Homo sapiens: one gene and its partners. The protein of the gene in region 7 interacts with the protein of the main gene of each other region in a pairwise test. Each region holds a gene or a part of one and is shown on either strand. Other genes may lie near its edges.

The links.
Region 1: the proteins of WNK1 (region 7) and ZNF839 interact in a two-hybrid assay, tested with the Homo sapiens proteins (one large-scale study listed by IntAct).
Region 2: the proteins of WNK1 (region 7) and HIVEP2 interact in a two-hybrid assay, tested with the Homo sapiens proteins (one large-scale study listed by IntAct).
Region 3: the proteins of WNK1 (region 7) and FHOD1 interact in a two-hybrid assay, tested with the Homo sapiens proteins (one large-scale study listed by IntAct).
Region 4: the proteins of WNK1 (region 7) and ITPRID2 interact in a two-hybrid assay, tested with the Homo sapiens proteins (one large-scale study listed by IntAct).
Region 5: the proteins of WNK1 (region 7) and WWTR1 interact in a two-hybrid assay, tested with the Homo sapiens proteins (one large-scale study listed by IntAct).
Region 6: the proteins of WNK1 (region 7) and RIPOR2 interact in a two-hybrid assay, tested with the Homo sapiens proteins (one large-scale study listed by IntAct).

The regions. Positions count from the first base shown.
Region 1 is NC_000014.9:102,322,746-102,326,245, reverse strand, and holds part of ZNF839 (zinc finger protein 839), read right to left. Parts: exon of another isoform or gene 3,482-3,500; coding exon of another isoform or gene 3,404-3,481; intron 728-3,403; exon of another isoform or gene 565-727; coding exon of another isoform or gene 541-564; intron 262-540; coding exon 1-261.
Region 2 is NC_000006.12:142,767,177-142,770,676, forward strand, and holds part of HIVEP2 (transcription factor HIVEP2), read right to left. Parts: coding exon 2,376-3,500; intron 1,361-2,375; coding exon 1,206-1,360; intron 1-1,205.
Region 3 is NC_000016.10:67,240,982-67,244,481, forward strand, and holds part of FHOD1 (FH1/FH2 domain-containing protein 1), read right to left. Parts: intron 1-3,500. UniProt on the Homo sapiens protein: Required for the assembly of F-actin structures, such as stress fibers. Depends on the Rho-ROCK cascade for its activity. Contributes to the coordination of microtubules with actin fibers and plays a role in cell elongation.
Region 4 is NC_000002.12:181,898,230-181,901,729, reverse strand, and holds part of ITPRID2 (protein ITPRID2), read right to left. Parts: intron 2,851-3,500; coding exon 2,811-2,850; intron 2,717-2,810; coding exon 2,618-2,716; intron 1,035-2,617; coding exon 826-1,034; intron 1-825.
Region 5 is NC_000003.12:149,651,526-149,655,025, forward strand, and holds part of WWTR1 (WW domain-containing transcription regulator protein 1), read right to left. Parts: intron 449-3,500; exon of another isoform or gene 1-448. UniProt on the Homo sapiens protein: Transcriptional coactivator which acts as a downstream regulatory target in the Hippo signaling pathway that plays a pivotal role in organ size control and tumor suppression by restricting proliferation and promoting apoptosis.
Region 6 is NC_000006.12:24,845,461-24,848,960, forward strand, and holds part of RIPOR2 (rho family-interacting cell polarization regulator 2), read right to left. Parts: intron 2,695-3,500; coding exon 2,565-2,694; intron 2,232-2,564; coding exon of another isoform or gene 2,082-2,231; intron 1-2,081. UniProt on the Homo sapiens protein: Acts as an inhibitor of the small GTPase RHOA and plays several roles in the regulation of myoblast and hair cell differentiation, lymphocyte T proliferation and neutrophil polarization.
Region 7 is NC_000012.12:906,079-909,578, reverse strand, and holds part of WNK1 (serine/threonine-protein kinase WNK1), read right to left. Parts: intron 1,733-3,500; coding exon 1,545-1,732; intron 1,105-1,544; coding exon 787-1,104; 3' UTR 1-786. UniProt on the Homo sapiens protein: Serine/threonine-protein kinase component of the WNK1-SPAK/OSR1 kinase cascade, which acts as a key regulator of blood pressure and regulatory volume increase by promoting ion influx.

The DNA of each region.
Region 1 (3,500 bases), on a different chromosome or scaffold from region 7:
TGGCAGTGGTCTCTGTACAAACCCCTGAGCAGGAGGTTGGCATAAGTCACTTAGGAAGCAGGACTGTGGCTCGGTTCTCACAAGCGGCTGTACCCTGAGCAGCTGAGGGCTGGCGATATGGAGCCCCACCAGGCAGGAATTCCCCCGGGGCAGCTGGCTCTTTCTTGCAGTTTGGGGCTGGATTGTGGTCGGTAGGAGCATTGGCCTTTCCTGACCTTTTGTTTCTCCAGACGTTACCTTGACACAAATGGCTTCTAGTTGCTTACGTACAGAAAGACAAGAAAGAGAAAAGAAGCATTGTGCTTATGAACATGTCTGCAATTTCAGTCTCGTCATAAAACCATTATTGACATTTTTTCTAAATTACATCTTACATATAAAAGTTGATGTAATGTGTTTGTACTAAGGTGGTATTTTCCAGACCTTTCTGACCAGAGACCACAGTGATATAAGCTGGGCTTGGTGGCTCACACTTGTAATCCCAGCACTTTGGGAGGCCAAGGCAGGCCGATTACTTGAGGTCAGGAGTTCGAGACCAACCTGGCCAACATGGTGAAACCCCATCTCTACTAAAAATACAAAAATGAGCTGGGCGTGGTGATGCACTCCTGTAGTCCCAGCTACTCAGGAGGCTGAGGCATGAGAATCGCTTGAACCCGGGAGGAGGTTGCAGTAAGCTGAGATCGCACCACTGCACTCCAGCCTGGGCAACAGAGTGAGACTCCATCTGAAAAAAACAAAAACAAAAACAGAGACCACAATGATACATTTTACATTATGACCTAGTACACGTGTATATAAATATCTGCATACATAAATAAAATAAAGTTGATGGAACTACTTACCATCCCTATATAAATGCCCGCTGATTGTATCTATTCTACATCATTTTTTTTTTTTTTTTCTGAGATTAGGGTCTCACTCTGTCACCCAGGCTAGAGTGCAGTGGTGCGATCTCAGTTCACTGTAACCTCTGCCTCCCAGTTTCAGCGATTCTCTCATCTCAGCCTCCGGAGTAGCTGCCACCACACCCAGCTAATTTTTGTATTTTTTGGTAGAGACGGGTTTCACCATGTTGGCCAGGCTGGTCTCAAATTCCTGACGTCAAGTGATTGATCCACCTGCCTTGGCCTCCCGAAGTGCTGGGATTTCCAGCGTGAGACACCACGCCCAGCCCTATTCTACATCACTTTTTAAAAAATACTAGTCATAATCCACTAAGTTGATTTCATGACCAGTGAAGAGATAAGAGCCTTCCTAACAGTTTTACCCATGTGAGGTTTTTCTTTTTCTTTTGAGACGGACCCTTGCTCTGTCGCCCAGGCTGGAGTGGAGCGACACTATCTTGGCTCACTGCGACCTCCGCCTCCCGAGTTCAAGCAATTTTCCTGCCTCAGTCTCCCAAGTATCTGGGATTACAGGCACGTACCACCACGCCCCGGCTAATTTTTGTATTTTTAGTAGAGACAGGGTTTCACCATTCAGGCTGGTCTCGAAATCCTGACCTCTGGCGATCCACCTGCCTCACCACACCCGGCTGGCTTTTTGTTTGTTTGTTTTTTTGAGATGGAGTCTCGTTCTGTCGCCCAGGCTGGAGTGCCACCACAACCTCCACTTCCCAGGTTCAAATGATTCTCCTGCCTCAGCCTACTGAATAGCTGGGATCACAGGTGTGTGCCACCATGACCAGCTAATTTTTTTTTAAGATGAAGTCTCGCTCTGTGGTCCAGGCTGGAATGCAGTGGCGCTATCTCAGCTCAGTGCAACCTCTGCCTCTCAGGTTCAAGCAATTCTCCTGCCTCAGCCTCCTGAGTAGCCCTGATTACAGGCGCTTGCCACCACACCTGGCTAATTTTTGTATTTTTAGTAGAGACGGGGTTTCACCATGTTGGTCAGGGTGGTCTCAAACTCCTGACCTCATGATCTGTCCGCCTCAGCCTCCCAAAGTGCTGAGATTACAGGCATGAACCACCGTGCCCGGCGTTACCCATGTGTTTTTGCTTGGAGTTTTTAGTACTCTAAAAGCAGACGTAATTCATAATGTGGGCCCATGTTTTTTAAAAAGTTTTTAATGAAATTCTGGAAGCGACAACAAAGCCATAAGGAACAATGTTACCCAGCTTCCTACTGCACAACCTGCATGCCTGTTTCTTCACCCTGTCCTGAATGTGCTGTTTAGCATTCTTATGATTTTAAAAATTTATGTGGCATATGCAGATATTTCTAAAAATATATAGTTCAGTTCTGAAATGTTTTTAAACTTTATATAAATGATATCATCTCCTGCAACTTGAAAGGGCTTTTCTGGGTTTCTTTACTTCATTTTGCTTCGTGAATTTTATCCACATTAACATGGGTAGGTGTCACGGGTTCATTTTCTCTGCAGTATGAGTACACCAGTCTCCTATTGATGGACAGGTGGTTTCCAACCTTCTGTTCCTAAGTTCTGCTCTGAATCTTCACGATGTATGTGTATACATGTGTGACTTTCTCCAGGGGCATGTACCTAGGCGTAGGGCTGAGTATCTTCAATAACTTTTTACAAATATATCTAACAAAATTTCAAATACATGTGCTTTTTGACCCAGTAATTCCATTTCCTGGATTCTATAAAAAAAACACGCAGGTGGCCACAAAGATGTTCTGTTCTACGAAGTTCAGGGCAGCACTGTCTATAATAGCAAAACACCTACCAAAGGGGAGAACTACCTTCAATAACACCCCACAAATATTTATTGAGCACTGACCGCGTGCCAGAAACACTGTTACAGGTGTCAGGGAAACAGCTGTCTTACAGCTTAGGGGAGAAGGACGGGGAAGCAAAAGAAACAAGGCTCCCGCCCTCACAGAGCAGAAATAATGAGCACTTTCCTCCAGGGAGAAAAAGAGGCAAACCTCATCATCCAGAGCACGATTTCCCAACCAACATTTCAGAACATAATCCTTTGACATGGGTGGCTGGAGGATGGCCAGCAGCATCTCTGCCTCTACCCACTAGATGCCAGTAGTGATCCCGAGTCCTGACAATGAAGACATTGCCAAGTGCCCCCTGTGGGGCAAAACTGCCCTCGGTTGAGAATCACTTATTTGGGACGACCAACTGGCCCTCTTTGGACTCAACCTTCTGGTGTGACCCTCAAACAGTGGAGCATCAACAAAAATGTCACACAGGACAGAATAAAGATCCTCACTGAGATCAAGCTGGAGTGTGTCTCTCGTCTGTCTGTTATACTAGTACAAATAGCAGAGGTCAGCCAACACTTTGTATGAAGAATTGTAGAGAGGTGGCACCATAGCCCTGGGAGTCCCCGACTCCTGGGCTACTTGTGAAACAAATGACAACGAGATTGACTGCGCATATCCTTCAAGAACCCCATCTCTTTCATTTTACTGCCAGTCACACCTGTAATCGCAGTGCTTTGGGATGCTGAGGCGGGAGGACTGCTTGAGGCCAGGAGTTCAGGGCCAGCCTGGGTAACATAGCGGGACCCTGTCTCTAC
Region 2 (3,500 bases), on a different chromosome or scaffold from region 7:
GTACACTGCTATGAAGGCTGCTGAATGTGAGAGGGTTGATTCAGTCACAGGGACCTCTCAGTCTCTGAGGAGAGATAAAATCTATATTTCTCTCGTTTGTGTTAAAAGATGGGGGATGTCAAAAAAATATCAAGACAAGCTTCATGACTACATACAATTGTGGTTTTAGTGGTGAAAATGCTAGATATCCAAAGAGGGCAAAACCTAAGGGACAACCAAATAGAATAATCCATCTCCAAACCGGTAATGCTAGGTGAGAAATGGATATTTCATCTCACTGAACATTCCACATTTTATAGTCAAACAAGTAACATTATTTCCTCCAAATATAATTGGAATAAAGTCATGCCCATGAAGATATGTAAATAATAGATTTGTTGTAGAGATAAGGCTAATTACATCATAATCTCCAAAATGTGGTTAGCACGCTTCAAAATTTTTAAATTTTAGAAGCATAAGTGTAGGCTTTTCCTTCTATGTGACTGGATGAAAGATACATTTCTATCAAAATCTAAAACAAGACATTACATATGTGTAATTTTTCTTAACTATACAAATAACAAAGTCTTTGAACCTTATTACTTGAGTTTCTATGACTCAGGACTCAAGATTTGAAAAGAAATTCCTAAATACAGAGAAAGTGTCATACACCAGAGAAGACTGAAAAGGCAAGACAACTGAGTGCAATGTGGTACCCTGACTTGGATCCTGGGACAGAAAAGGATATTGATGGAACTGGTGAAATCCCATTAAAGCCTCTAGTTTAGATAATAAGAAAAACAAACAAACAAATTAACTAGTTCTGAAGATTATACATGATTGTGCATGATCTGATTTTTGTAAGCATACAATAAAAATATGTCCGTCAATAAAACAAATACCTATAAAATGATCAAAGAATGAACAAACTTAGATGACATCAAGTGTCCACCAATTTAGTAGATTTCATAATAAATTAGAGGGGTGAAAATTTAAGGAAGAGGCTTGAATGATATCCATTAGGGACATTTTCTTGCAAAGCAAATCCCAAAGGCAAGGGCATGAACTTATGATCTATTACCAGCCAGAGTTCAGAACTGTGAATAGAAAAGGAATTTACTTTCAGCTTTCAACCAGATTAGACAGTACCTTTTCCATGCAGACATTCTGGACCATTTACTCTGACCTATAACTGCACATTTTACATTTGCACTTTGTTTCCTTACCCTCCTTCAAATATTTTAATTCGGATTGGCTCAGTTTGTTTGGATCCAATATCTTTATCTCCATGAATATCTCCTTTCCCTCTTTCCTTTAAGATATTTCCCACTAGTTTCCTTTCTAGTTTGCTGCCAAATAAAAAGGACGCATCAGGTTTCATCTGTAAGACAAGAAGAGAGAATCATTTCACATGCTTTCTCCAAGACACAGGAGCCCCTATGTCCCACTCTTCCATCATCTCTGAAAATGAGCCTAAATTCTGTACTAAAAGGCCAGGAACTAGTTATATAAAATAAGGACCACTAGGGATAAAATCAGATAAGAATGACAGTTTCCACTGAATAAATTCAACATTCTGTTACAGCTATATATAATAAGTACATATATTATATATAAAAATATATAGATACACATATACACTCAGCACTCTGTGCAATGCTAATACTTAAAAGACACATTCTATGTTTTGAAGTAGCAATGAAAACAATCTATATTAATTAAGGAAGTAGTCTCAAAAATTATTGAAGGGAAAATGGTAACTGATAAAAGTGAAAACATATTTTTAAATCCTCTATTTGCCTCCTTATTAATTTAGCAGAAATTTCAAAATTCCCCTTAATATTTTTATAATTTTACATGGAAGGCATTGATGGTTCTTGTAGGAATAAACCAGCCAGCAACTTGGAAAAATAAGTTTTGAAGGAGACAGATGTCTCGTCAATGAGAGTAAGCCCTGCAGCATTTGCAAAGCTCGGTCCTCCTTCTTCGTCTTTCCTTTCAGCCTCCATTCCCTGCTCTATGGCCCACTTCACAATTCCCTGAATTCCTCACATCCAGAGAAAATTAGACCTGCTAGGTCACTCACAAAGGTCAGAAGGAAAATAACCCATGGGAATTAATCCCAGTGGTAGGATTTCATGGCACCCAAATTTTTAAATTTTAAAAGCATAAATGTAGGCTTTTTCTTCTGAAAATGGACCATGCCTGAGACCTCAGAACCAAGTGCAGTCAGTGGCTTCTTCCACTCCTGAGTAAGGCCAGACTTTCTGAAAACGCCCCCACACTGACCTTCATTTTACTTGTATTTTTTTTTTAGGCCTTATATCCTTCACTATGTAGTCTGCTCAGCAATCAAATCCACAATACAAAGTTCTTCCTAAAACAGTATTTGTTACCTGAGTAAACTGCTTCCAAGCACTTGATGATGTAAGCTTGCCGGTTCCAGGCCTATGCATAGCAGCCAGAGTATAAATTTCTGCAGTGATTTTTTGCTTGGACCTCAGAAGAGCCAGCGTGGTCTTGGTGTTCAATCCTGATGGGTTTGGATTACAGGAACTAATGCACCATGAAGCATAAACCGAGGATTTGAAGGTGGCCTGTTGCACATAATTGGGTTTTGTATAATTCAAGAAGCACCAACTCACAGTAGTTGTTGTCCGCAGACTGGGGAACTGAAGAATCTGCTGGAAATCTGCCATGTCCGTGAGAAGAAGAGTTGAGTCTGCCACGTTCCCGCTGGGGGCAGAGGCCATGCGGACCAGCATGCCAACAGGCCGCTTGTGGCCCTTCCCTTCCTCTTCCAGCTGACCATCTCCTGCTGGTAATGAAGAACTCTGTGGGCTCATGCTCATGTCCGATGCCGTCTCATCGATATCTAATTCATCTGAAGATTCTTTGCTTTCAGAAGGCCCACTGGACTTCTGCCCCGGAAGTGGTGCCCGGGAACCGGAAAGCATCTCCTTGCTGGGCAGGAATGGCTCCCTGGAAGACGGGCTAACAGAAGGATAGTCTTGAGATGAGGAGGGCGACAGCGAGGAGAAGGAAGATGACCCTGACTGCAAGCCATCTTTTGGCTCAGAAGCACATCCTTGTCGAACCAGCTGGGGTTTCTGGGGGCGGGAGAGGTCCTTTTTGATGTCTGAGTTGGTCAGCTCCACAGCACTAAGCTCCTCCACAATCTGTCCGTACATCTTTTCTTCTTTGACCCTTTTCTGCTGCTTGGTTTCCATGAAGAGCTCCAAGCTACTGGCTGGAGAAAGCATTCGCTTGCTACCTCCCAGGGTGGCCACGCTGTCAGAGGTGGAAGGTAAACACAAGGGGATGGAGGATTCTAAGCCGAGGGGCAAAGTCTGAGGTGCTTTCCAAATGGGGTACTTCTCCAAGCCCGCATGCTGCCCCAGCACCTGGGCAATGTTGAATCCTATCCCTTGCATGGCTGCGTTGGTGACCAGTGTCCTTTGGGTCATATTCTCATCGACTTTGCATATGACAATGGCAGGGCTATTCTGCCCAAGTATCTG
Region 3 (3,500 bases), on a different chromosome or scaffold from region 7:
GCCTTGGTCCCCTGGAGAAAAAGGGAGTCCAGCTCCTGCCTCAACCCCTACCTCTGTTTAGCAACCCTTGCGCCTGCCTCAGAGCCTGACCTGGCTCCTTCCCCACAGTTTAGCCTGTGGGGCCCTTGGATGACCCCCCCCCCCGCCCACCCCCGCCTGGGACCTGGGACATAGGACAAACACTCCAGCCTGTTCTCTGTCCCACTTCCTGCCTGGCTGCCTGCCCTCCCCAGGGTGCCTTGGGCAGGCCTGGCCACTTTCCCCTCCCTGGGAGCAGAGTCATCTTCTCCAGGGCCTACTGGGAACAGGCCTGAGAAGGGGCAGCAAGGCCTGAGGGCTGGGGTATCTTGTCCAGGGCCAGCTCAGCTGAGGGCAACCCACATTCCTCCTGATCTCTTCCCACACAGTGACTCAGCAGCCTACCACCCCACCCCCATTCAGGCACAGCCGCATCTCCCTCCCTTGGCCTGGAAGATTCTGGGACCCTAGAAGAACACACCTACCCCAGAGCCACCCCCGTCAGGGATCCCCTCGAATCACACACATATAGAACAGCTCATTCTTTGAACATTCATGACCAGGCTGGTTTCAGATGCAGAGGACCTAGGAGGAATTAGACACTGCCTCTGCCTTCCCTTCCTTCCAGCCCAGTGGGGCAGACGGGAAGACAGACAGACGAGTCAGAAAAAGCTCACAAATGAATGTGGAATCACAACTTTCACAGTGCTAAGAAAGGGGAGGGGCAGAGTGCTATAAAGATAAACGGGAAGGGAAAACATGTTACACCTGGTAACTGCTTACACACCCAGGTATAAGGTTGGGTATGCACTGGCCAACACAGGCTGAAGCAGCACAGACCCAGAAAGGTCAGGCCCACCACGCTGTCCTGCCTCCTTGCATGCTGTAATCCCAAGAGAGCAGAGAATGTCCCTCTCCTTCCAGGACACCTGCATCCATTTGGGGAAGGGTCCTGAAGGTTAAATAGTCCACCTTCTTTTTTTTTTTGATATGGAGTCTTGCTCTGTCTCCCAAGTTGGAGTGTAGTGGCACAGTCTTGGCTCACTGCAACCTCTGCCTCCTGGGTTCAAGCAATTCTCCTACCTCAGCCTCCTGAGTAGCTAAGGTTACAGGCGTGCATCACCATGCCTGGCTAATTTTTGTATTTTTAGTAGAGACAGGGTTTCAGCATGTCATCCAGGCTGGTCTTGAACTCCTGACCTCAAGTGATCCACTTGCCTCTGCCTCTCAAAGTGCTGGGATTGTAGGTGTGAGCCACTGTGCCCGGCCAATGGTCCACATTCTCTAGCCTCCTCAGCCACTTCACCTGTCCAATCCTGCCAGGGCCCCATTTCTGGGGAGGAGGTCCAGGGAAACAGGTAGTCCAGTGCCTTCCAGGACAGTGTCTCCCCACCCCCAGCTGTCTGTCCTGGGTGGAAGTGTGGGGTGGTAGGCTAGAGTCAGGCAAGCAGCAAAGAGCAGGAGACTTCCTGCTAGCAGGATGGCACATGTCCCTCACACCCCGGCCCCTTCCTGGGGTCACCCTTCTGAGAGCCAAACCTCTGGGCCTTGTTTCTCACACCCTGGGGCTGGGCCAGGCCTGAATAAGCCCAAACCCTGGTCCTTGCTGACGGGGCTTAAGCTCAGCACGTAGTATGGGCCCACTTCCCTGACACCTTCTTGGCTCTTGTCTTCCTCACTTCTCTGGTCTCTGTCTTGGGGTGGAGTCTTTCCCCCATTCTTCCCAGGCTCAGCTTCTCACATTGGCCTCCAGCCCACTATACTCTTGACTTTCCAGGCTCAGGCTTTTCTGGCAGCCCAAAACCAACTGGTTATGTATGGTTTTATATGCAGGGTCAAGCCCAGGGGACCATGGCATCTACTTCTCTCTCTCTTTCTAGCTATCTATCTACCTATGTATAATATATAGATATAGATCTATAATATATAGATGTCTATAGATATTGATAATTTATATATATAGCTATGTATCTATTATATATATCTAGACATCTATTACATATATCTATTATATATTTTATAAATATACATTTTTCCCGCTTGTTTCTTTAGACTGTCTTACCCAATATTTTTAATAACAGTGTAATCAGGTAAGACTGAACATACCAGAGCAGGGTACAGGGAAGATGGAAAAGAGGCAGGATTATAGGCTGAAGGGCTTTCATTTTAGAAAATAATTGGTTAACTGCCTCTTTTGTCTCCTTTCCTATAAACACAGGACCCTGTGTTCTGAAGACCCTCCTTTCCTGTTATCGCAGGTCTCCAACTAGAGTGTGACTTCCTGAATGAGATGACAAGGATGGGCCTTGGGGAGGGAAATCCACTTTTGTTATCTTATGCTTCCTCTGTGCCAGGCACCGGACTGCCTCTTTTTTTTCTTTTCTTTTTTTTTTTAATAGAAATAGGGTCTCGCTATATCACCCACACTGTTCTTGAACTCCTGGCCTCAAGCAATCCTCTGGCCTTGGCTTCCCAAAGTGCTGAGATTACAGGCATGAGCCACCATGCCCAGCCTGAGCCGCCTATTTAATTTGATTCTACCAATAATCCTTTTACAGATAGGGAAACCAAGAATCAGAAAATCAGCGCATTGCCCCAGGGTGCACAGCCAGGAGCCAGGGCTAATTGACCAAATCTTGGGCGGATGGGCCCTGGAAATGCTCCAAGGAACCCTAGAGGGGAAGTGGAGTGAGGGCTGGGGCCAGAAGGATTGCCAAGAGCTGAAGACATCCTCTTAGTTTTCTGGACTCTGCAAATACCCCATACTGGTCCTCCCAGTTCCAGTAAGGGAACACCAATAGACACACGCACCCCATGCAAGTTAGGATAATAGTATCTACCTCTGCCAGGACCTAGGTGTCAGGGTCCCTCACCAGTCTGCAGCTCAGCCACTCTGTTCCAGAATGACCAGCAGATTGGATAGTCCAGCCCCAGGGGAGGCTAGGAGGAGACCAGGACTCATGCCCACACCTCAGTTTTCTACAGTCTCCCAAAGGCTCCTGAGATGTAAAAAGGCTAGAGTGGGTTGGGGTAGGGTCAGGAAACATTCCAGGACAGTGCCACCCCTGTCCTACTCTGATTTTTAGCCACAGCTAGGGAAACAAAGTTGCTAGTAATGACCAGATTTCTAGGGCTATCCCCACTGTCAGGAGGAGAGGGCTTTCCTGGCCTTTGCAGCAGGGTCAGAGAAGCACCCCAGATCCCCCTACCCGGAGCTCAGGGAGAAGTCAGTGCTATACCAGGTGTGGTAGGGCCTTGGGTATCGGAGAGGCTCCTGAGACACTTCCCAGAAGGGAGGGTAGAACTGGGAGGCTCTAGATTAGGAGATGAGATGCAAGGCCAGAGGGACACATTCTCCCCTCTGGCAAAGGCAGGTCTGGGCTGGGGGAATATTTTGGAGGGGAGGAAGGCACTCCTGAGTTCCCCCAGGGACACTAGGCCCGGCCCAAGACACTGTCAAGCTCCCTTCCACCAACCAGGGC
Region 4 (3,500 bases), on a different chromosome or scaffold from region 7:
TTATATATATACATACACATATATTAAATGCATATTATTGTTTAGAATTCCAAAAACTACACTTAGATCACAAAGATTATAAAACCCTATTTTTTCCTCATCTAACACTTAAACCTTCTCTACATTCACTGGGTGGGAAGGAGCAAGATTTTTACTCTAAGCACTAGAATTTGTATTTTTAAAAAATCAGAAATAAGCACAAAGCATAATGGCAACATTGAATAAAACAGAAAGAACTAGCTATTGAATCTACAGTTGTGATTCTATTCTGAAGTCTTGAACTCCATTAAGACTCTTTCAAAATTCTCCTAAGAAAATGCATGTAAGCATATATTTTATACCTAATTTGCAGGGTGAGGGATTTATTGATCTCTTAAAACTGATCCATGAACAATGCAGGATTGGAATCCTATTTTTGGAATCTTTGGCTAACAGAAAGAAAACAAGCAAAGATATGAGTGAAACTGATCAAATTAGCCAGACTAGTTCCTGAAACAGACTGACTTCATTTAAGATTAACAAGGCTCCTCTCCTACTTCTTTTCTTCTTGAATAAAAGCAATCTGTAGACAACAATAAGGTTCTGCAAATAAGTTATGGTAGCACTTAAGTCAGGAATTGGGGAGGAGGGGAAAAATAGGCAAATTAACCACTATAAATGGAGTAATAAAATAGCTTAATTTTAACATGTAAAAATGGCTTTTGCGTTAATCAATCTCTTTACTTTCCAGTGCTATTCCTGAAAATTAAGGCTTTAAAATAAGACCATCTTGCTGTAGATGCTATAATTTAAGAAAATAATATGCCTAACACTTAAAAATCTTACTTGTTAAAGCATAATTTGGGTTTTCTACTTCCATCCGTTGCATCTGAGCACTCAAAAATACTTTAATATCTATCCCTTTGGCAAAGGATGATGAATTAAAAAATCTGGAAGGAATTTTAGAAGCAATATCTGGTTCATCACGTCCAAATCCAAGATTATAAAGAATTTCTTCAGGATCTTCCTCATAAAGTTCCAACAATTCTGAAACACTACAAAAAAAGGGGGCAAAAAAGGAAACATGAAAATATAAAATAAATTGATAGTCCACACCACATTATAAATGAATACATATTACTGATTTCCTGTGATAAAATCTTTTTTCTCAGCTTCTGCTCTGGAAACCATTATTTATTTTACCATGTTTACACATGTGTACTGGGGAATAAATAGCCCTTATAAAGGGTTCATTGTCTCAAGTTGCTAGAGTTGCAGAAAAGAGCTAACCCCAACGAACACAGTCAGAGATTCCCTACGTGATTCCTCACCTTATTTGTTTTGTCATTTTAAGAGATTCCCTGTAAAGCAGCTAAAACAAGTAGAAGACAGATGATGAAGAATAAGGAATGAACAGATTAAAGCAGAAATTAAAAGGAACTGAGGGACATTTTGTGAAATTTGAGCTTTTCTGTTATCCTTGTCCTAGGAGTGGCAATTGTCCTAGGAGGAACAATAAAGATAACAAGCTGATTTCAGAGAAGCGAGGGAGGAGCTTACTTTCAACTTCTCTCCAACCACTTCCACTCAGGAAGTAGGAGGAGTAAGGTACAGAGAGTGTGGGTTACACAAAGGTAACTACTCTAATCCTATTGGGAATTAAATATTTAGTATCCCTTCTCTCTCATACCAGTGATAATCCAAGCTTTCTAAGACTCACTGAAGAAAACAGGAAAGTTAGAGATGGAACTTCAACAGAGAGACATTTCAATTTGTTTCAGACAAAATGCTCAGATTCTAATATTATAATTTGGATAACAGTTTAAACTGGATTCCATAGGCACATGCACTGATGTATTTTAATATACTATATGTGCGGGCGGGAGAGGGGCAAGGGTATTTTTCTGTTTGGCTTTTTTGAGACAGCGTCTCACTCTGTCAGCCAAGTTGAAATGGAGTGGCACAATTATAGCTCACTGCAGCCTCAACCTCCTGGGTACCACTTCAGCCTTCCAAGTGGTTGTGACTACAGGTGGATCCCACCATACCCAGCTAATTTTTGCATTTTTTGTAAAGACAGGGTTTCGCCGTTTCCCCATATTGCTCAGGCTGGTCTTGAATTCCTAAGCTCAAGTAATCCACCCACTTTGACACTCCAAAGCACTGGGATTACCGGTGTCAGCCACTGGGCCTGGCTATACTATATATTTGAAAGATCTTTGGTTTAATGTGTTGAAAAAAAGTATGCTTAAATATCAAGCTGTAACTTAGAAAAATTTATTCTGATTTTTGTGTCAGAGTTAACTCAAGTCCTTAACAATGAATTTTGGTTCTCTACAACTACAAGTTACTCCGCTATGGAGTTCCTCTTTCAGGCTGTTGAGAGGGCTCAAAATACTCATTTATGGGTTCCAGCAGCAGTATAAGCCTATTTATTGCATTTTATTTAATCTCAAAGTAAAACAAAACAAAACAAAACAAAACAAAAAGCTCCTATCAGTTGTGCTGGTACAGGAAACGCTCTTTTTGTGTTCTTTCTGATTTCATATGATCAAGGTCAAATCCAAGATTGAAAAAATGATAAGAGTAGGTCATCTATAGCACAATGTAATTCCAACACAATTTCAGAATAAGTTACCTTGAAACTGTCCCACTACTTTTCCCAGATCCAGTGGAATTCATACTTCTCCCTTTCTGATGAAACTGTAATCTTCTCTCTTTGGCCAAGATATTATTGCTACGAACAAAATCAGATTATATAAAACTTTATAACTTTATTTTCATTAAAGGTCTTCATTTTTTAAAAGAAATAGAACAAAACAGCTACATACCAGTTTTCAATTTGAGCATCACTTTCATGGAGGTGGTTGGCTACAGGTAAAAACAATAAACGTAGAGCACAATTGTTAGTAGGACTATAACTACTATGATACAATTATCAAGAAATCTAATTACCTACAATATTAGAATTAAATGCCAAATATATTAAACACTTATCTTGGTCCATTAAATCTGCATTATTAAAAGTGATATACAGATAGATAAGAACAGGGCCAGGAGCTTTTGAAGGGTGTTTTTGTGTTGTGGCAACATGAAACTAACTACTCTCACTTGAGTGCTTAAAATAAAAAAACGTATAGGGAACCAGTTAAATTTCTTTAACAGGTTAGAAATAAGTAATGAGGAAGATATGTACCATATATGTGGTACTAATTATTAAATTTAAAAGCTATTAATGAATAATATCTTAAGAGGAAAACATGATTTAACATTAAGTGTGGCAATAGTATATGTCAGTTTCTAATGTGAATTTTTTTTAAGGTTATAACTGATTTTTCACACATATAACATGAAAATTTCTACTTATTTCAATATAAACTTTCTTTTAAAAATTGCCTTTCAACTTTATGATAGAACTTTAGCTTAAAGTTCTAAACAGGTAAGTGTTAATGTTTAAAGTTAAATTTATAGACAAATACAAAGAATAAAATTAATTATAAACACATCTATTTCAGCACACA
Region 5 (3,500 bases), on a different chromosome or scaffold from region 7:
ATCATAATAATGGCAAATAATGCATGAACACATTAAAAGGCAATCAGAAATACTAGGGAAAAAATTTAAGAAAGTCATGGTCCAAATATGAAAAAACTAAAAGGTAACACAAATTTAAACAACTGATGAAGAGTGAGAAAACAAAAAATCCCATTTGACTTTGGGGCTAGATATCTCATCCTTTGATTGGCCCAGGAATCCTAAAACCAGACCCACAGTGCAAGTCTAAAATCCAATCCTGACACACAAGGCAATGAATCATTTCACAGAATTGTAGTCATGTAAATGTTGCCTATGGATTTTCTTTTTTTTTTTTTTTTTTGAGATGGAGTCTGGCTCTGTTGCCCAGGCTGGAGTGCAGTGGCGCGATCTCGGCTCACTGCAAGCTCCGCCTCCGGGGTTCACACCATTCTCCTGCCTCAGCCTCCTGAGTAGGACTACAGGCGCCCGCTGCCACGCCCGGCTAATTTTTTTTTTTTTTTTTTTTTTTGTATTTTTTAGTAGAGACGGGGTTTCACGGTGTTAGCCAGGATGATCTCCATCTCCTGACCTCGTGATCCGCCCGCCTCGGCCTCCCAAAGTGCTGGGATTACAGGCATGAGCCACTGCGCCCGGCCTTATGGATTTTCAACTTTAAGAATCATATACGAATAAGATGGTCAACTTTGGGGCAAAGCACAAATACAGGTTATGGGTTCAGGGCTTTGGCAATGTGGAAAGCAACATTGTCAAAAAGTGAACAGTAGAACTGGTAGCAATCCAAACATTACTGACATACAGCATAAGGAATCAAGAAATACTATCCAAAGTTGAAAAAGCCAGGTGTGGTGGCTCACACCTGTAATCCTAGTGCTTTAGGAAGCCGGTGGGAGGATTGCTTGAGGCCAGGAGTTTGAGACCAGCCTGGGCAGCATAGGAAACCCTGTCTCTACAAAAAAGTTAAATAAATTAGCCAAATATGGTGGTGCAAACCTATAGTCGTAGTTACTCAGGAAGCTGAGGTGGGAGGATCACTTGAGCCCAGGAATTTGAGGCTTCAGTGAGCTATGATTCCCACTGCACTCTAGCCTGGGTGACAGAGACAGACCCCATCTCAAAAAAAAAAAAAAAAAAAAAAAAAAAAAAAAAAAAAAAAAAAAAAAGATGATTATTTAAAAAAGGTGACCTAACAGACAAATTTAAAATATTATAAACATCAAACCTGGGAGAGAAAAAAGAAAACTAGCTTAAAGAGCTACATTCTCACTTTCATATCAGGTGCTAAAAGTTGATAAATCAAAACATGGTGGTAAAAGCACATTACTTAAGCTTAAGAAGGTAACAATCTAAGAATTAAATATGGGTACAGTTGAAAAAAATTAAAAGTTGCCCTCTGTGAGCCTTGAGGAGGTGAAGGAAACCATTGTTTTTCAACAAATGTCCTCCTGTATATTGGATTTGTTACCAAGTGCATGGATCACTTGGACAAAAATAATTTTCTGTCACACATTTGAGAAAAGGCAAAACACTAAAATTGTCACTAAAAATGAGACGTGGCAGCCAAATGTTATAGTCTGAATTGTATTTAAGAGGAGGATAAAATCTTTTTTCTTATAAAATCACGTTACTCAAATGAAAGATTTTTACAAGAATGTTTGCGAAAGAGTAAAGATGGGAAATTCTACTGAAGCTAGATAACTTTCTTCTTTATAATTCCCCATTTTCTGGTTTATGTATAGAAAGCATGTATTCTATTTATAATCAGAGACCTTTTAAAAATTTAATGTGATCAGTATTCAGTCAGTGTGCCAGGTTGCCCAACACCCCAGCCTGATTCATGAGATTGAGAGGACAGCAGGAATAATGAATGAACACAGTGGTTTTCAGAGGCTAGGTGTTTTAACATTCAATCTGCTTCACTGTTACTCTAATTTTTAAAAACTTTTTATTTAGAGATGGGGTGGGGGTGGTAGTGGCTGCAGGTGGGCACCACCATGCCCTAGTCATTGTTACTCTAAAGGAATATCTGAATACCACAGGACACCTGAACACCACAGGAAAGCTGTGAATGCTCAGGAAAGGTGCCTTCAGGAGGTTGCAGAAAGTGATTACATCATATACCTAGGAATAATCTTACCTGAGAAAATGACAAAAGGCTTTTTTAAAGCTTCTTAGATGTCCAGGCTCTGTTTCCCATTAAGTTCATTGTTTAGCTAAGGAAGTGACATGGGGGAAAGGTGTCGGTGGGGAAAAAGGAAAACTGTTGCCTAAGTAGACAGCAACAGATTAGAGGTCCAGTCCAGGGTCCACCATTAAATAACCACATGACTTTCCCAAATTCCTATCATCACCCTTCCGTGGCCTCAATTTTCTAGTCAAAAACTAAACTAAACAAAATTGACCCTTGTCATTCTAAAATCCTTTGATTTCCAACTTATAAAGCTCTCAACTCCCAACAGAGTCAAGAAAAAGATTCTTCTTCTGGCTGGGCATGGTAGCTCATGCCTGTAATCCAAGCACTTTGGGAGGCCAAGGCAGGAGAATCACTTGAGTACAGGAGTTTGAGACTAGCCTAGGCAACATAGTGAAACCCCATCTCTACCCCAGCCAAAAATAAAAAAATTAAAAAAAAAAATGTATCTGCTAGCCTCAGCCCTATTTCATAGATGGCAAGTAAAGTAATAAACAGACATAATGAAAAGTAACTCCAAGTGAGTCACCATCATTTTTCAAGCTTCTACTTAATCCACTGAAATACACTGCCTTTTGAGGCTGTGTAACAAAGTGTATGACATTTACCTAATTCCAACTTTAAACAAAACTCTACAAGAAATTCAGAGAACTCTTGGCAGATTGCTTATCCTTAAAGACAATAGTCACTGACAAATTCTTAACCTCTCTTAGTCACTTGGCCAAAATACTTCCAGGGATAGCATCAGAGCAGGCCAGCCTACTACTTACACATTTTTTTCAGCTGTCATTTTCATTGACTACCCAAAGTGAAATGAAGATGCACTCTGCTTTGGATTGGAGAGTGGTTGTGGTTGGGGGGATGGGCAGAGAGATCACAGCAACTTTCTCTAAATCCAAGGCTAACTTCCACTTTTGCCCTTGTTCACAGGCAGTTCTGAGCTACTCCAATCATTCAAAACACAATGTATAAAGGAATTTTTTTGTTTTGCTTTTGTTTCAGGGTCTTTTTCGTCTAGTTTTCCTCAGATATTAGGCAAGCCTAGCTCCTATTTCATATTTTTAATAATCACAGTTATACTGATCATATACCATACGTATGTGTGTATATATTCATAAACACAGTTTAGAAATCATGTAGGGCTGGGGCCAGGCGTGGTGGCTCACACCTGTAATTCCAGCACTTTGGGAGGCCGAGGCGGGCAGATCACGAGGTCAGGAGATAGAGACCATCCTGGCTAACATGTTGAAACCCCGTCTCTACTAAAAAAAATACAAAAAAGTAGCCGGGCTTGGTGGCGGGTGCCTGTAGTCCCAGCTACTCGGGAGGC
Region 6 (3,500 bases), on a different chromosome or scaffold from region 7:
TGTGCACACATCTCATGGCAGCACAGAGGGAGGTGGGAGACACTGGGTATGGCAGGGAGATTGGGTAGTCAGGATTCTTATTCAAATTCCAAAGTCCTTCCCAGCCATTTGTCTTGAGACTCCAAGACTCAAGCTCAATTTCCACCTACTTAAGTGGCAAATATTGAGTGAGAATAAATTGAGATGCCCTGCCCAAGGGGACTTGCAGTCTACCAAGGGGACAAGTCTAACAACAAGCACACAACAGTACAATGGTGTACACGCTATAACTGAGGGATGACATCATGAGGGAAGGGCCCCAATGAGGGAGTGGCTGCTGCCTGTGAAAGAGCCAATCCTGGAGCTCAGTGTGGAAGATGGTGAAGTAGGGGGCAGGCACCGGAGGAAGTGCGTTCTAGAAGGAACAACATGCAAAGACATGAGCTCCTGAAAGGAGGTGGTGCATTTGGAGGACACTGAGAAGCTCCAAGGGGCCCCAGCAGAGGATAGAGAGTGAAAACGTGGGATGGGCTTGTGGTGGGCTGTGGCCAGATGGGAACAGCCGCTCTGAGGACCTTTGCATTTATCTAAAAGGTTTTATCAGGAAAGCCATCCAGTTGTTTTCTAACCTTGTTCTTATTTAAATTATGACGTGAAACCTCTACCAACTCTCGCCCACAACCCCCAACCTGTAGCACATGAACATATGAGCATGAATATACATGTTATGTTAACGGTTGCGTGTATAGCTGTGTTAGCTCTTTGTGTTTTGGTTCATGTTTTCATGTGTATTTCCCCCATACAATCTTCCCATTTTCCCTGAAAACTCCACCAGAGTTTAGCCTGGTCCTTTTCACCTGCCTTTTTTTTTTTTTTTTTTTTTTTGAGACAAGGTCTTGCTCTGTTGTCCAGACTGGACTGCAGTGGTGCAATCATAACTCACTGCAGCCTCAACCTCCTGGGCTTCAGTGATCTCCTGCTTCAGTCTCCTGGGTAGTTGGGACCACAAGTGTGTACCACCACAACAGGGTAATTTTTAAATTTTTTGTAGAGACGGGGTCTCACTTTGTTGCCCAGGCTGGTCTTGAACTCCTGGGCTCAAGCAATCCACCTGCCTTGGCCTCACAAGGTGCTGGGATTATAGGTGTGAGCTACCATGTTCAGCCTTCACCTGCATTTTTTAATTCAATGAAAACGATGCAATTATTATTATTATGAACCCAAAGACTTTTAATCCTTTCCTCTGTTGACACTCAAAGCTTCGTTTTATACATCTGTGAAGAGCAGGATGTTCCATGTATGTGTGTGTGCATGCATGTGTGTGTGTATCCTCTGGTGACATAATGTATAATATATAATACTTATTGTATTCCTGACTGTGAATTAAGGATATCTTTTTATCGAAGTGTTATAGAATTAACAAACATTATAATAAACTAAGACTGAGAACCTTTCAAATAGAAGTAGCTCTAGTAAAATTCATTGAAATCCTTTTGAGTTCCTTGAATGCCAATTTTTTGTTTGTTTGTTTTTGAGATGGAGTTTGCTGCTGCCCAGGCTGGAGTGCAATGGCACCATCTTGGCTAACTGCAACCTCTGCCTCCTGGGTTCAAGTGATCCTCTCACCTCAGCCTCCCAAGTAGCTGGGACTACATGCACATGCCTCCATTCCTGGCTAATTTTTGTATTTTTTAGTAGAGGCAGGGTTTGACCATGTTGGCCAGGCTGGTCTTGAATGCCTGAGCTCAAGCGATCCACCCACCTCAGCCTCCCAAAGTGCTGGGATTACAGGCGTGAGCCACCATGCTGGGCCGAATGCCAGTTTTTGAAAGGCTTAAACTTGTTTAAAATCTTGTTACCATGGATATCTTTGCCACAATGGAGAAAAATCACAGCACAAAAACAGGGATCATTAGAAGAGAAGGACAAACTGCGTCTCTATCAAAGTTACATGCACGACCAAGTGTCCCGCCCCAAGGACAGTACAGCTGTAACCATACCCAGTGAGCAAGACAGAGAAGATAAAACAAGAGACATGCTAAGTCACACATGCCACAAGCCCCAGAAGTCAAGCACTCCATACCCGGGCAGGCCACACTCACATAGAGCTCTAGCACGGCCTTGGGACTCGGCCTGAGGGAGGGCAGGTCACTGAAGGAGCGGCTGCGGTGCAGCTTGGCAAAGAAAGTGTCTTGCAAGGCACTCAAGACAGACAGCCGCCTGGGCTTGTCTGGGGAAGGATGCAGCCACCTCTTCAGAAGTGAAAGCAAGATGGGGGAGTTAGTGGGAAGAATCAGGTTACTACATTTTGTTAGCTTTTTAGCAAGCATTTTTGATTAAAACAAGGAGGCTATTATTTATATGCACTTCTTTAAAAGGCTGATCTTAGAGAATGTTCAGAAAAATCTACATGTTACCATCACAGCAATAGGTAAGGTGGGCAAGGAGAGAGGAAAAACAGAGGAGGCTCACCACCTCTGATAGAATTACTAACTCCCAGCACTGTCTCTTAAGCATTTCAAATGCTGGGTGCAAGCACTGGCTCAGGTGCATTGATTCTACTCGGGAAATTACACTGAACTTACAAAGAAGGAGTGGTCTTTGAAGGTGGGCGTTTCCGGGGTACCCTGGCTGTACATGGACATTCTCCTCTGAAGGGCTGCTGCCTTGTTCCCAGCGCCTGAGGATGCGGTCATGTCCTCCACGTCAAATGGACTGCAAAACAACAGGTCCCCAGGTATGCACATTTGGCAAAATCACCTATCATCAACAGACCACAGGCTAAGAGAGTACCTCATTATATAAAGGTAAACTCAACCAGAGGTTCAGAACTGGGCTGGTTTTAGCTAAACTGCTTTGCAGAAAATAAACCTGGATAAAAGAAAAGTGGAGCAGAAAACTGAGTCTAGACTCACCCAAGGGACCCCAGAATATTATCACAGCTCTAAGCACAATTTAGCTATACACTTAGATACACCCGTTCCTCATTAACATTAGAAACACAAATTTATGAATGCTTGCTTCGACAAAACAAGATGTTGAAAAGTCTATAAAAATTATCTGAACTTTGCGGGGCTAGATACCTTAATGGTATAAGACATCGACAGACTATTGTTCCATTCTAAAGAAAACACTCAAAAATAGAATCCCATTCATTTCAGTTGACACAGAGCCTCTTGTGTGGGAAGAGAATAACAGTCTGTTCACAATGATGCCACTTAACATCATGGCACCCGATTCATCCAGCAAGAAGAATGATCTTGCATGTGAGACATCAATGACTGCAGATTGTGGGGAGGGAAGGGCTGAGCAAAGCATGCTGATGATGACAAAGCAAGAGTGTCTTTGCTGCTTCTACACCTGGCTTTCCATATTGTAAATGAGACCCTGAGCATGAATACTCAACATGTCATATTTACTTGGCAATATACCGGGGGCATTACATTAAATGTTGTGAACTACTAGTGGTTTTTGTTTTTTTGGAGATGGAGTTTTGCTCTTGTTGCCCAGGCTGGAGTGCA
Region 7 (3,500 bases):
GTGTCTCAATAAGTAAAGGACAGAGCTAGCTTTTTTTGGAACTTTTTAAACGTTTCATATTTTACTCTTAAAACTACTGTTGTCCAACAACATTTTATATATCACAGTGTTTCCACATCAAAACTGATGGCAAAGTTACATGTCCGCAGGGAACTTAATTTTTTTTTTTTCCTAATTGCTAATGCTGCAGTCAAAGCTGCTAATATCTTTTGCTTAAAGCACTAATGACCTATCATAAGAAAGAGTTGCACCCCAGTACCCTGGTATTTTTCACTGGGTTCTAAAGAGCAAAGAAAAAATAAAAAAGAGAGGGGTAAAAAAAAGGGAGGAGGGCAGGGTAGGAGAGAGCCCAGTAGGTGGTTTTTGTCCTGTGGTTCGGATTCTTGAGGGAGTGAGGGATTCAGGGCATGTACCAAAAGCAAGAGCTCCACCCACTCGAAATTACAGATGGGTTTGATTTTACATTGAGTTCTCCAGCTTCCTTATGAACAAGACTTTCCTAGCCCTCATCCTCATTACTGAGTATAGATAAACAGGAAAGCATGGTCTGAAGCTGCCCCTTGACAAAAAAGCTGTTCTTTCCTTCCTCTCCCATTCCAATAACTGGAGCGGGGGAGACTCTCCATTCTGAGGGCTCAATGCAGTATTAAAAACATTCCCCTCTGGCAAGAAATAACCAGTTAAATGCAGCACTAGTAGTTAGTATATAGGCTACTTCCCACCCCCACCCACCCCCTCAGCATTCCATCTCCTGCCCCCAGATCTATTCAGTTAATGTCTCTAGGTCTAAGTGGTCCGCAGGTTGGAGCCTGGGGGGTTGCTGATGGATTTCTGCAAATTGCTGATGTTGAAATTCTGCAAGGAGGCAGTTCCCACAGGTTGGAACTGGCCAAGTGGCTGTGGTGCTGGGCCACCCGTCCCACTCCATTGAGCGCCAAATGGGGTAGCTGGAAAGCCATACTGCTGTGGGGGGCACATAGACTTGGTGAAGTGACCTAGAGAGGTAGCTGATGCTGCAGAGATGGGGGCAGAGCCACCCAGGTTCGAGGTCATGGAGATGCACAGTTGCCCAGGTGCAGAGAACTTCCTTGCCATTCCAGGGCCCTGAAAACAAAACCACCACGTGTCAAGTCTGGTGTGGGCCATGGTATAAAATGTGTGGCGCTAACATATACTTCTAGTATAATCCTGTAAGATACAGCAGAACAGTCTTCTGTAGTATTTATTGGCTCTTTATATTTACCAAGTAAGGGTGAAAATAATCCTCATGAGAGGGAGGGATGTCATGTGCGTGTGTGTCTGTGTGTGTGTAGTTGAGGATGACGAAGGAAAAACGAAGAAGAAAAAGTTGAGCTGACCAACAAGAGGTTAGGAATTCAGGGAAGGAAAAATAAAAGGGTACCTGGGGGATTTTTGCCTTGTTTTTCTAAAGTATTAAAATTGAAGAAGGTCGTGGCGTAAGACGTTAAGCAGCAGCTTAGTTGTTTCTATCACCTTGACTCAGATGTGTGTTACGGATTCTCTGCGGCAAAAGAGAGACTTACCTCGTAATTCATGTGCCCTTTGCTTCCTCTCCTGCCTGAGAGATTCATGGCATCTCGGGCCCAATTGTCTACCAACTTGTGCAAGTCATCTGTGAATGTGCCCTTCCTGCTGGACGTCATGGCAGGAGGCTGAGCTTGGGCGGCTTGGCTGTTCACTGTTGCCCCAACAGTGTTTGTGCTGCTGGTTCCTATTATAAGCAACAGAATACGAGCATTAAAAGAAGCCTAGGTTACAATTTCAGGAAGAGGGAAAACTTCACGGGATGATGAATGGCAAGCCACAGAATGAGAAGAGGATGAACTGGGAAGCCATGCAAGAGGGAAGATTCCAAGGTTTTGTTTAGCCATTTGTTTTGGTATAATAGGGTGATGAAAACAGTTTCTCTTCAGTAGCTGCTGCTAAGGCTGAACAACTCAGGATGACGGTAGGTACACAGGCAGGGGCCTCTTTCAGTCCATTCACAAAGCACCTAAGAGTATTGGAACTGCTCGCCAGTACGCTATTCCCAGCATCACGTTGCTGATGGAGGTGTGATACAATCAGCAAGGCTAGTTGCTCTGGAATTTTGCAGAATGCAGGGAAAAAGAGGTTTTCTTGTGCATTGGGCACGGTTAAAGTAGGAGTAGGAAAAGATGCTTGGCTAAGGATAAGGAGAAGGTGGGTTTCCAAACCATTGGACACTGCCACATTCTTTAGCCTTTTTTTTTTTTTTTGAGATGGAGTCTCACTCTATTACTCAGGCTGGAGTGCAGTGGTACGATCCTACCTAACTGCAACCCCTGCCTCCTGGGTTCAAGCGATTCTCCTGTCTCAGCCTCCAGAGTAGCTGGGATTGTAGGTGTGCACCACCATGCCCAGTTAATTTTTGTATTTTAGTAGAGACAGGGTTTTGCCGTGTTGGCCAGGCTGGTCTCAAGAACTCCTGACCTCAGGTGATCCGCCCGCCTTGGCCTCCCAAAGTGCTGGGATTACAGACGTGAGCCACCACGCCCGGCTTTTTTTTTTTTTTAAAGGAAGGGTCTCTTCTTTTTCTGTCACCCAGGCTGGATACAGCGGCACAATCACGTCTCACTGCAGCCTCCAACTCCTCCTGCCTCAGCCTCCCAAGTAGCTTGGGACTAGACGTATGCACTTCCACACCCAGTTAATTTTTTACTTTTTTATATAGACAGAATCTCCATATGTTGCTTAGTCATGAACTGCTGGGCTCAGGCAATCCTGCCATGTCAGCCTCCCAAAGTGCTGGGATTACAGGTGTGAGCCACCATGCTCAGCCTAGCCATTCTTTAAATAGAGAGAGGTAATAAGAGAAGTAGCATGCTGTGTTCAGAAAAGTTTTTCACCTGGACCCATAAACATGAATTTGCAAACATAAACTTGGGAGGGGTTAACCTCTCCCAATTTCCCATGAGTAAAGAACAAGATTATTCATGAGGAAAGGACTGTATGGTGTGCCTGAATCTTTCAACTTCAGGAAGACATGGTTTTCCTGAAGATGACCTCAGTTTCAATTGGCTCAAGGATTCCCACCGCTTCTCCCCACTCTTCCCAGAACAGCAAGCACTCCCATGTAGAAGCGACAAGAAAATGCAGCTGAGGCAGGGTGCAAAGGGGAGGAGGAAGCTTTGCGGTTATGATGAAGGAACTCTATTTCTGCGGTTTGATGAGAGAGGAGGGAGTCTATGCCTGCCTGATTTCGGCTCTGCTGGAGGGCACACTGAAGATTATTCCAAGAGGCACGTTTTGGGGAAGAGGGAAAGAAGAGTCATGGTCTTGTCTGTTTTCCTTACCCCCCACTGTCTTACCAGATCTCACGTGTTACAGAATAAATAAAAGCTCCTAAAGTAAGTTGTGAACCACTAGTCCTTAAGGTACCCAAGTAATGCGGGGGTAAGTAAGTGCATGCGTTATCCTGCTTTCAAGGTCAAAGCAGCACCAGATCACAGCAGCACACC